Regions from separate parts of the Homo sapiens genome. Here region 2 is linked to region 1. A link means that fine-mapping ties the variant in region 1 to the expression of a gene that starts in the linked region. Tissue or cell type: testis. Region 1 holds a variant in brackets; the other region holds the start of a gene. All regions are shown on one strand. Distances are from middle to middle.

Region 1 (5,154 bases):
GAAGTTGTTTAATAGGTCTAGGAGCCTTCTGGTGGAATCAGAAAAGTTTTCTACATGAAGAGTCATATCAATAAGTGAAGAGAAATAATTTGACTTTCTCTTTTCTTATTTAAATGATGTTTATTTCTTTCTCTTGCCTGATTGCTCTGGCTAAGACTTCCAGTTGAATCGGAGTGCTGAGAGTGGACATTCTTGTCTTGTTCCACTTCTTAGTGATAATGCTTTCAATTTTGCCCATTCAGTAGGTTGTTGGCTGGGGGTTTTGAGGGATGTTCCTTTGATGCCTAGTTTGTTGAGAGATTTTTCATGAAGGGATGTTGGATTTTATCAAATGCATTTGCTGAATTTATTGATGAATGGCTATGATCAAATCATTTTTAAATTTCTCTTTATGTGATGAATCATTTATTGACTTGCATATGTTGAACCGTCTTGAATCCCAGGAATAAAGCCCACTTGATCATGGCGAATTAACATTTTGATGTGCTGCCGCATTTGGTTTGCTAGTATTTTGCTGAGGATTTTTCTATCTATGTTCATCAGAGATATTAGTCTGTAGTTTTCTTTTTCTCTCTTTGCCAGATTTTGGTATCAGGATGATAGTAGTATTATAGAATGAGTTAGGGAGGTGTCCTTCCTCCTCGATTTTTTGGAATAGTTTCAGTGGCATTTGTACCAGTTTCTTTGTATATCTGGTAGAACTTGGCTGTAAATCCATCTGGTCCAGGGCTATTTGGTTGGTAGGTTTATTATTATTATTACTTATTCAACGTTTTAATGGTCTGTTTAGGATTTATGTTTATTCCTGGCTTAATCTTGAGAGATTGTGTTTTTTCTAGGAATTTATTCATTTCCTCTAGATCTAGTTTCTGTGCATAGAGATGTTCACAGTAGTTTCTAAGCATTTTTGTGTTTCTGTGGGATCAGTTGCAATGTCACCTTTTGTCATTTCTGATTTTGCTTATTTGAATCTTCTCTGTTTTCTTTTTTAATCTAGTTAGCAGTCTATCAATAATCTTATTTATCCTTTCAAAGAACCAAGTTTTTTTTTTTCATTTATTCTTTGCATGTTTTGGGGGGGTCTCAATTTCATTTAGTTCTGCTCTGATTTTAGTTATTTCTTTTCTTGTGCTTTCATTTATTTTATTTTCTTCTGCTCTGACTTTAGTTTCTTTTTAAACTTTTCCAAAAAATCAAGGAGGAAAGATACCTCCTTAACTCATTCTATAATACTAGTATCATCCTGATACCAAAATCTGGCAAAGACATCACAGAAAAAGAAAACTACAGGCTAATATCCCTGATGAACATAGATAGAAAAATCCTCAGCAGAATACTAGCAAACCAAATCCCGCAGCACATCAAAATGTTAATTCACCATGATCAAGTGGGCTTTATTCCTGGGATTTAAGATGGTTCAACATATGGAAGTCAATAAATATGATTCATCCATAAAGAGAATTAAAATTTAAAAACGATTTGATCATAACCATTGAACAATAAATTCAGCAAATGCATTTGATAAAATCCAACATCTCTTCATGAAAAATCTCTCAACAAACTAAGCATCAAAGGAACATCCTTCAAAACCTAAAACATAAATCCTAAACAGAAAAACATAAATCCTAAACAGAATTGGGTTTAGTTTGTTCCTATGTTTCTAGTTCTTATAGGTATGAGGTTAGGTGGTTAGAGATTTTTCTATCTTCTTGATGTAGGCATTTAGCAATATAAACTTTCCTGTTTTTGATGCATCCCTGAGTTTTTGGTATGTTGTACCTCTATTCTCATTTGTTTCAAAGAACTTTTTATTTCTACTTTGATTTCATTGTTTACCCAAATGTTCTTCAGGAGCAAGTTGTTTAGTTTCAATGTATTTCTATGGCTTTGAGAGTTCTTCTTGGTATTGACTTATATTTTTATTCCACTGTGGTCCAAGAAGGATGCTTGATATAATTTTGCTTAAAATCTATTGAGACTTGCTTTATGATTGAGCATGTGGTCAGTCTTAGAGTATGTTCCATATGCAGATCAGAAGCATGTCTATTCTGTCGTTGTTGGGTGGAGTAATCTGTAGTTGTCTATTAGGTCCAATTGGTCAAGTGTCAAATTTAAATTTATAATTTCTTAGTTTTCTGCCTTGATGAACTATCTAATTATATCAGTGAGGTGTTTAAGTACACCACTATTATTTTGTGGCTATCA[G/A]AGTATTTTCTTAAGGCTAGAAGTAAGTGTTTTATAAAGCCGGGTGCTCCAATATTGAGTGCATATATAGTTAGGATAGTTAAGTCTTCTTGTTGAATTGAACCCTTTATCATTATGTCATGCTTTTTTGTCATTTTTGACTGTTGTTGGTTTAAAGTTAATTTTATCTGATTTAAGAATAGTAGCTCTTCCTCCTTTTTGTTTTCCAGTAGTGTGGTGGGTCTTTATTCATCCCTTTACTTTGAACCCATGCATATCATTATGTGTGAGGTGGGTTTGTCTCTTAAAGACAGCAGAAGAATGTGTCTGTTTTGTTTTTAATCCAATTTGCAACTTTATGTCTTGTAAGTGGAGCATTTAGGCTATTTGTCTTCAAGATTAATATTGAAATATTAGGCTTTGTTCCTTTCATAGTGTTGTTAGCTAGTTGTGTGGTAGTCTCGATTATGTACTTGCTTTGTAGGGACCGTGGGTTGTGTGCTTGCATGTGCTTTTGTGGGAGCAAGTGTTCTTTCCTTCCCATGTTTAGAGCTCTATTAAGCATTTTTTGGAGGGCCAGTTAAGATGTGATGAATTCCCTTAGAAACTGCATGTTTGGGAAAAACTTCATTCTCCTTCGTTTATGAAGCTCGGTTTGGCAGGATTTGAAATTCTTTACTGGCATTTATTTTCTTTCAGAATGCTAAATGTGGGCCCCCAATATCTTCTGGTTTGTAAGGCTTCTGCTAATAAGGGTTCTGTTAGTCTGATGGGTTTCTCTTTACAGGCAATATGACCCTTTTTGCTCGCTACCTTTAAAAATTTTTCTTTCTTATTGACTTTGGATAATCTGTTGACTATTTGCCATGGGGATGGTGACCTTATATAGTATCTCACAAGAGTTCTCTGGATTGCTTGTATCTGCATGTCAACCTCTCTACTTCTACAAAAAAATATTTTGTGTCCAAACTATTCTATGTGGTTGCATCTGGACTTCACTTACTGTAGCTCAAGTATTTAAAGTTTTTAAATACTTAAAGTATTTCCATTTTATAAAGCTACCAAAATTTATCCCTTGAACTATTGGTAAATATTTGATTCATTTCTCTTTTTATATTATACAAACAATGCTGCTAGGAACATTCTCATATATGTCTCTGCTGTTCTTTTCTATATATTCTGCCTGTTTTTTCCCTTGCTTCAGCCTAGATATTTCTGTTTCCCTATCTTCCAATTCACCAATCTTCTTTTCTGCTATGTCTAATCTGCTGTTATATACACCTACCAACTTCTTAATTTCACTTACTGCTTTTTTTGTCAATTCTATAAGTAATATGTGAATTTTAAGATAGATTCCAGTTTTCTAGCAAAATTCTTCACCTGGCTATTTATTTAAATATACTTATCATAGTTATTTTAAAGTCCATATTTGTAACTCCAATATAAACCTTCTGTGTGTGAGATTTGCCCAGTATGCCTTATCATTTTTTATTGAATTCTGGATTTTTTGTATTAAAAATGACAAAGACTCCTGGTTCATACTATGTACAGCAGAAAGACAGTTCACCTTCTTCTGCTATGCATCTTGATTGATGGCAGAGCATTTTCATCTAACCAGTAGCTGAACTGACTCCAGGATTATCTAACTTTTAAGTTAAATCTACATGTGATTCAAACATAACGCCAGAGTGTAAATTTTCAGGAGTCCCAATGGAGAGCCTGAGGTGTTCATCAAGGCCTCTCTCGTTTTGTAGATTTGAGCCCCAAATTTTCAGAAACTGTAAAGTTTCTGAAAAATTCCACTCTGCTTGTTGGTGACTTCTTTGCTTGGCTTCTTAGCCTTCTCAGTTTAATACTTTAGAACATTCTTGGGGGGAAACTTAGTGGTGTGTGTGGTGCTCACTTCTCTTGAGCTTGATCCTTCAAGTCCTGGCTACCTCGGCAGCTCTAAACTCTTTTTTGCTTTGTCAACCCTGTAAGATTGCCAAGTACTCTCCTGGCTTCTCAAGTTCTGATCAAAATTTCTCTGCCGGGATTTTTCACTTTTCAATCCATAAAATAAAAGGATAAATGCTCTAAGGAGAAGTATATTTTGCAGCTCATTACTTACTTCTCCAGGTCCTTCCTCTCTGATACATTGGCCTTTCAAATCCTGTTGCTTAATGTATCATGAATGCTTTTAAACAGATTTTTAAAAATAATCTTTGGCTCTCATAGCATTTGTTATCTGTCAGGTCATTGATCTGCTGCAAGCTATCACTTTAGTGACAAACAGAAATCCTAAAGGTTATTGAAAATTTTATTTAATACTGAGATTGTATTTATTCAAATGTTTATAATAAATTAGAATTTAACATAAAAATTCCCATGATCGATGATTATGACACTAGTGACCATGGGAAAAAAACTAAGTGAAATTTTAGAGGAAAACAAAAACATATTTTTAGAAACCCTCAAAGGCATTTATTTGTCTGTATTGTTAAGTTCTATTGCTATTGTTTGCTGATTTTATGTTATTCTATCTGAAATAGTAGCTCTTTTGAAACTGCATATATTTTAACTTTACCTTGAAGAGAGGAAGGAATTTATTTTCCTTTCAAGTAATTATTGCTTCAGGGATAGTATTAAGGTGACAATCTGAATATTAACCTATTTGGGCTCTGAGAACAAAAAAAAAAAGGAAACGTCTAAGTATTGGAGATGGTAGGTGCAACTTCAATACATAATATGATTGACCCTCTTTAGTATAATACCACAAAGCTAATTAAACGAGAGAAAACTTTGAGCAATAAGCTCTTAGAGAAAGTTAAAAAGAAAGTTAATTTAATCAAAAGTAACATGAACTTATGATATTTTGATATAAGATGATTTTTCTTATGCTATAGAATGATTTAATTAGTTTTTTTTTTCTGATATCATCCCTCTTAACTCCAGAAGTTTTGGGGAATCATCCAATATACCACCACATAT
Region 2 (5,154 bases), 290 kb before region 1:
CTACCAAAAATACAAAAATTACCCAGGCGTGGTGGCAGGCGCCTGTAATCCCAGGTACTCGGGAGGCTGAGGCAGGAGAATCGCTTGAACCCAGGAGGTGGAGGTTGCAATGAGCTGAGATCGCTCCATTGCACTCCAGCCTGGGGGACAAAAGCGAGACTTCATCTCAAAAAATAATAATAAAATAAAATAAAAAAGACTGGTAAAAAAAAAAAAAGCAGAAAAAAACTGGGCAAGTAGGCAATGATATAGTTTCTGAAAGCATAATTGTGCCATACTAAGGGGTTAGGATGGTTTTGACATGCTTATTTTCCTAATTGCTAATTAATGGCCATTTTAGGATTATATATATATAGGTATATATATAATAATTTGAAAAAATTAGATTTGTCTTGTCAAAACTTCAATGTAGATGACTAATTAAAGGGAGAAAGGGGAGGTATGACTTTATTAGATTTATTTTTCTTACATAAATTTTCTAAATATTCTTGTCATTTTTTAAAATCATTGTGGGTCTCCTATTAGCTTAATATTATTGTGACTCTAAGGTTATACCAATATTATCTTAAAATTATTTAAAATTATTTCCTGTTTTAAGCTTCATTCCTCTGAGATTTATTGTTGCTATGGTATGAGATAGTAGTTCAGATTTATTTTCTTTCAAATTGTGCTCAGCCTCTGTACAGTTTTTCCCCACTGAGTTAAAATGGCAAATTTATCATATATAAATTTTATGCTTTTTCTGTAATCTTTCATTCTACTGATATATATATAAATAAAATCAGTAGATACATATATAAAATCAGTAGATATATTTAGAATAAGTAGATATGTGTAATATATATATATATGTATTTGTGAATTCTTCCTTATATAAACTTGTTCTGTTGTCTTCACTGTAGAATCGATGGGGTGACTTTTTTTCTCTAAACATGCTATAGTTTCAACTGATTCTTATATTATGGAGAAGAATTTTTTATTCGGCCTTCCTTTTATTCCTTTTTAATTCAATCTTCATTTGATTATGAATAACCTGGTTAACAGTTTGTATTTTTTTATGCTTTTAACACTTTTCTAGATCTCTTGAAATTAAAACAAGCAAGCCCCCAGGCTATTATTAAATACCACAGTCTTTTCATTTTTATTTTATCTGGATTATGGTAAGCACTGTTGATATTCTAGGATTTGTTCTCTCACATATGTAGTTTATAGTCTTTGTCAATTTCACTTTTCATTATTACCTTTAACTTACTGATCTTCTAGGAGTGATACGTCAGAGAAGCCTGAGATCACATATTGTAATTTCTGTTTTAAACATAAAAATGCACTCAAAAAACAAAAAAACTTAATTCCGAATCGAAGTAGTTCAAGTTAAATTTTCTTTCAAAGTTCTAATTTTTAAAGGCAGGTCATTTCACAGGACAATCCCTGTATATTACGTTTTAGTATTTTTTTTTTCTTTAGATGGAATCTCGCTCTGTTTCCCAGGCTGGGGTGCAGTGGCATGATCTCGGCTCACTGCAACCTCCATCTCCTGGGTTCAAGCAATTCTCCTGCCTCAGCCTCCTGAGTAGCTGGGATTATAGGTGGGTGCCACCACGCCTGGCTAACTTTTGTATTTTTAGTAGAGACGGGTTTCACCATGTTAGCCAGGATGGTCTCGAACTCCTGACCTCGTGATCCGCCCACCTTGGCCTCCCAAAGTGCTGGGATAACAGGCATGAGCCACTGCGCCCGGCCTACGTATGAATTTAATCATAAATGCCCTTCCCCATTCTTCCATATAGTATTTTACACTGGTGAACCTTTGTAAAATATATACAGTTGCTCGTTAGTAGACATAGGAATTCTACAAGGATTTTTAAAGGACTTATATTAGATAATTCTATTGCATACTACCTTTAAAAAGAGGCGTTCTTTTGTGTTTAAATTCGCCCTCTGGTGTTTAGTACATAGCAGAACATTCTAGGTGCTTTGTTTACTCACTGACGGGTGCTGAGGACACTGACTGCTCCAAATTTTCTATGTAAAAGGAACTTACGAACGGCAATTTAATTTAAAGACATAGCTACTTTTGGTATGATAGGCGTGCTGGTTTGTTTTGGGGAAGCAGCATTAAGACACTGAGGAGACATTAAAGCACTGTGAAGCCGCTTCTTGCCGTGGCTTCTTGCAGGATATGCAAGTATGTACAATATTCGAAACAAATCATTACTATGTTCTTTAAAAACGAATAAAGGTCTTTCACACAACATTGCATTTATTCTTTAGAAATTGAACACAAATGTGGTGGAGACGGGACAGGGCAGGTGGAAATTCACTTATAAGTCCTGATTGGCTAAGCCCTGGTCACGAGACCGTAAAAGAGCAACGTCTGTCTCAGAGCGACTCCCACAGCGTCCTTAGCAACCAGCCTTGGTTCCCAGCGGCTCAGAGCGCAGCGGTGAGTGATTAAGAGGTCCTGCTTCAGATGATTTGGGAGCTCAGGTTATTGTCATATTCACCATCCTAGGGCAACTGAAAGACCCACAAAGATCCTCACAGGGGAATACTGAGCCTCCTTTCTCAGGGTGCCATAGCTTTGTTAGAAGAAACACTACTCGCAACCCCAGGCTGGGCCTGCTATCTGGGCCCCTCCTAAGAGTCTAAGCAGTCCATCCTGGAAAAGCCACCAGGTCGTTTGATAGGGGAAGCTTTTTTGTTGGGGAGAATAAAGGAGGTGGGAACTTTCTTATTGCTATGAATAGGGAAATTCATTTAATCTCCCCTGGACTCGCTTATCCTGGGGCAACCTTGAATTCAGAAGACCAGTCTTCACACATCCTCTGTGGTTGGTGAAATTGCACCTTTTTGATTTTTATTTATTTATTATTTATTTAGTATGAAGACTCTTGGACTTCAAAAGAGAAGGTTCAAAAATTTGGCGCTCTGTGTGTGTGTGTGTGTGTGTGTGTGTGTGTGAAAGAGAGAGGGGGGTATATTGGAGATGTGTAATAAAACAATTTTTAAAAGCCGTTAATCTTGAGAAAAATATCCAAGTTGTCTATTAGAAAAATTTCTAGGAGGGGATAAGACTGTAGTAAGAGTCTCTTATTTACCTTACCATCTTAACAGTATGTCTGAACAAATTCTATCATTTGGTTGGTCAAATAATTTGCTTCCTCAGGTTAGAGTCTAAATCTTATATTCTCTAATGCATGTTACCTTTCCAAAGTCTTGATATAATTTTAATATTATCTGTTTTTCAGAAATTGTCTTTTAAAGTATACAGTTTCAACCTCATTTTTATTGGAACTTTAAAAAAATACATGAAGAATTAATAGTAAAACTAAAAAAAGAAATCTGGGTCTGTGCCAGGTTGCAGATGAACTGCCAAGCACCCAGGCAGACTGCTGGAGCCATTTCATGAGCTGAAACATTTCTCTTTAAAGTATAAACATTCTTGGTTTGGGTAATCCACATACATACTTGATTGAAGGTAGCAGATTTTTATTTCACTAAGACCTATTCTGCATGGACCCTTATGATCTTAATGAGTAGTGCTATATTCTTGCTGAACGTCTGATTCATTATCAGAATCATTCATTGTTATGATAAATTTGATAAATGTTCCTGTCTTGAAGTTCATTGTCCATCCAGAGCTCCTGGTAAAGTGTCTGCTCACAAATGCTTAACATTTTCCAAAATGTGTCCTGTATGTAGTTCTAGGAGATGATGTTCTAAAGATTTCTTTAGTCAATAAATTTTAAAGTACTACATGTCACACTGCTACTCAGAGAGATGTAGAGTATATATGAGAATATTAACACTGAGAAATCTTAGTATATGCAAACCTACTTATTTTTGTCTAATCCAGTGGTTTCTCAAACATTTCACAACAGAAAGCTTTTCGAGGTAGTTTCATCCCAAGAAGCAGTATTTTACAGAATGTATTTTAGAAATTAATGTTCTAAACTATATATCACACTTTTTATTTTTGCTTATATTTCCATAAAACCAAATGAATTCATTTCTTTAAAATGTTTCCTGCTGATTCATTACAATACCAAAGAAAACAAATCTCTTTAAAAAATATACCACCTTAGTAAATTATTTTATTCCTATTACTTTCATTGCGTTTTCAACAGTAATATAATAAATCACTTGCTAAATCTATATCGACTTTAGGATTACTAGCTTCTTACTATAACATGGCAAGTTTTTTTGTTGAAACCATATTTTTAACATTATAATATTTATTATGTAGCAGGTGCTCTATACCTATCTGGTGAATGAATAAATAAAAGATAATTGATTTCTTTTTTAGAGTTCCTTTCTGCAGAAGACTAGTCATTTAACTATTTGGTGAATGAATAAATAAAAATAGTTGATTTATCTTTTAGGATGCCTTTCTGCAGAAGGCCAGTTAAATGATCTTAACAGTAGTCCACCAGAAAAATGATGAGAACCTAATCTCATGGCAGTGGCCGTGATCTAGGATTTGATTCCTGATTGTTTTGGGAAGTTATAGAGAGCATGGAATTGAGGATAACTCTGAAATTTCTAGCTTGTCAGTTTGAGTGATTATATTAACTGAGATTTATTAAAATAATACTGGATTAAGAGCAGTGTTTAGGGACCTGAAATGAGAAAATAACAGGTTAAGTTATACACAGTTTAGATGTTTCAAGTACTCGTCTTTGAGCTGGGTGCCCAGAATTCAGTTGGAAAACAAATCTAGAGCTCAAGAGAGGTCAAGATTGGAGGCAGCTGCTTGGGAGTCATTGTTCTACAGTGTGGTTTACAGTATAGGGATGGATGGCATCAACTCCAGAGAGGTGAGAATATGAAGAGAAGGGTATTCTGGCCACAGGACTGATGTGAATATCGAAAGATATAAAGTATGTGAAAGTACTTTGCAAACAATAAAGTCCCATGCAAGAGTTATTATTATTACATCCCAGAAGGCTTACTGAAGAAATAGGTTTGAACTAGGGTTTTCAGGAAGGTGTGAGATATCCTAGGATTGTATTTGATGGAATATAACAGAAACTCGTCTCCAACAACTTGACTGTGGTTCATCTCTAATGCCATAAATGTTCCAGGCTTCTGTCTTTGTGTCCCATCATCTTTGTATGTGGTTTTCATCTTCCTGGTCATCTCTTGATAGCAAGG

Direction of the effects. Alleles are on the strand shown, and positions count from the first base shown. SD is a standard deviation of normalised expression in the study named.
With allele A in place of G in region 1, the expression in testis of the gene that starts at base 2,399 in region 2 is higher (small effect, 0.34 SD a copy in GTEx).

What was found. PIP is the estimated chance that this variant, and not a neighbour inherited with it, causes the effect.
Region 2: TMEM232 starts here. The variant in region 1 is fine-mapped to the expression of TMEM232 in testis (GTEx, PIP above 0.99).

What each region holds. Positions count from the first base shown.
Region 1 is chr5:110,430,066-110,435,219 of GRCh38, reverse strand. All of the region lies in intron 12 of TMEM232 (transmembrane protein 232), which reads left to right. Among named protein-coding and RNA genes, the nearest start is that of MIR548F3, 81 kb to the left of the region's middle. The variant G/A (reference allele first, on the strand shown) is at 2,206.
Region 2 is chr5:110,723,916-110,729,069 of GRCh38, reverse strand. TMEM232 (transmembrane protein 232) reads left to right here and starts at 2,399. Exons shown (of 14, transcript NM_001039763.4): 1 at 2,399-2,443.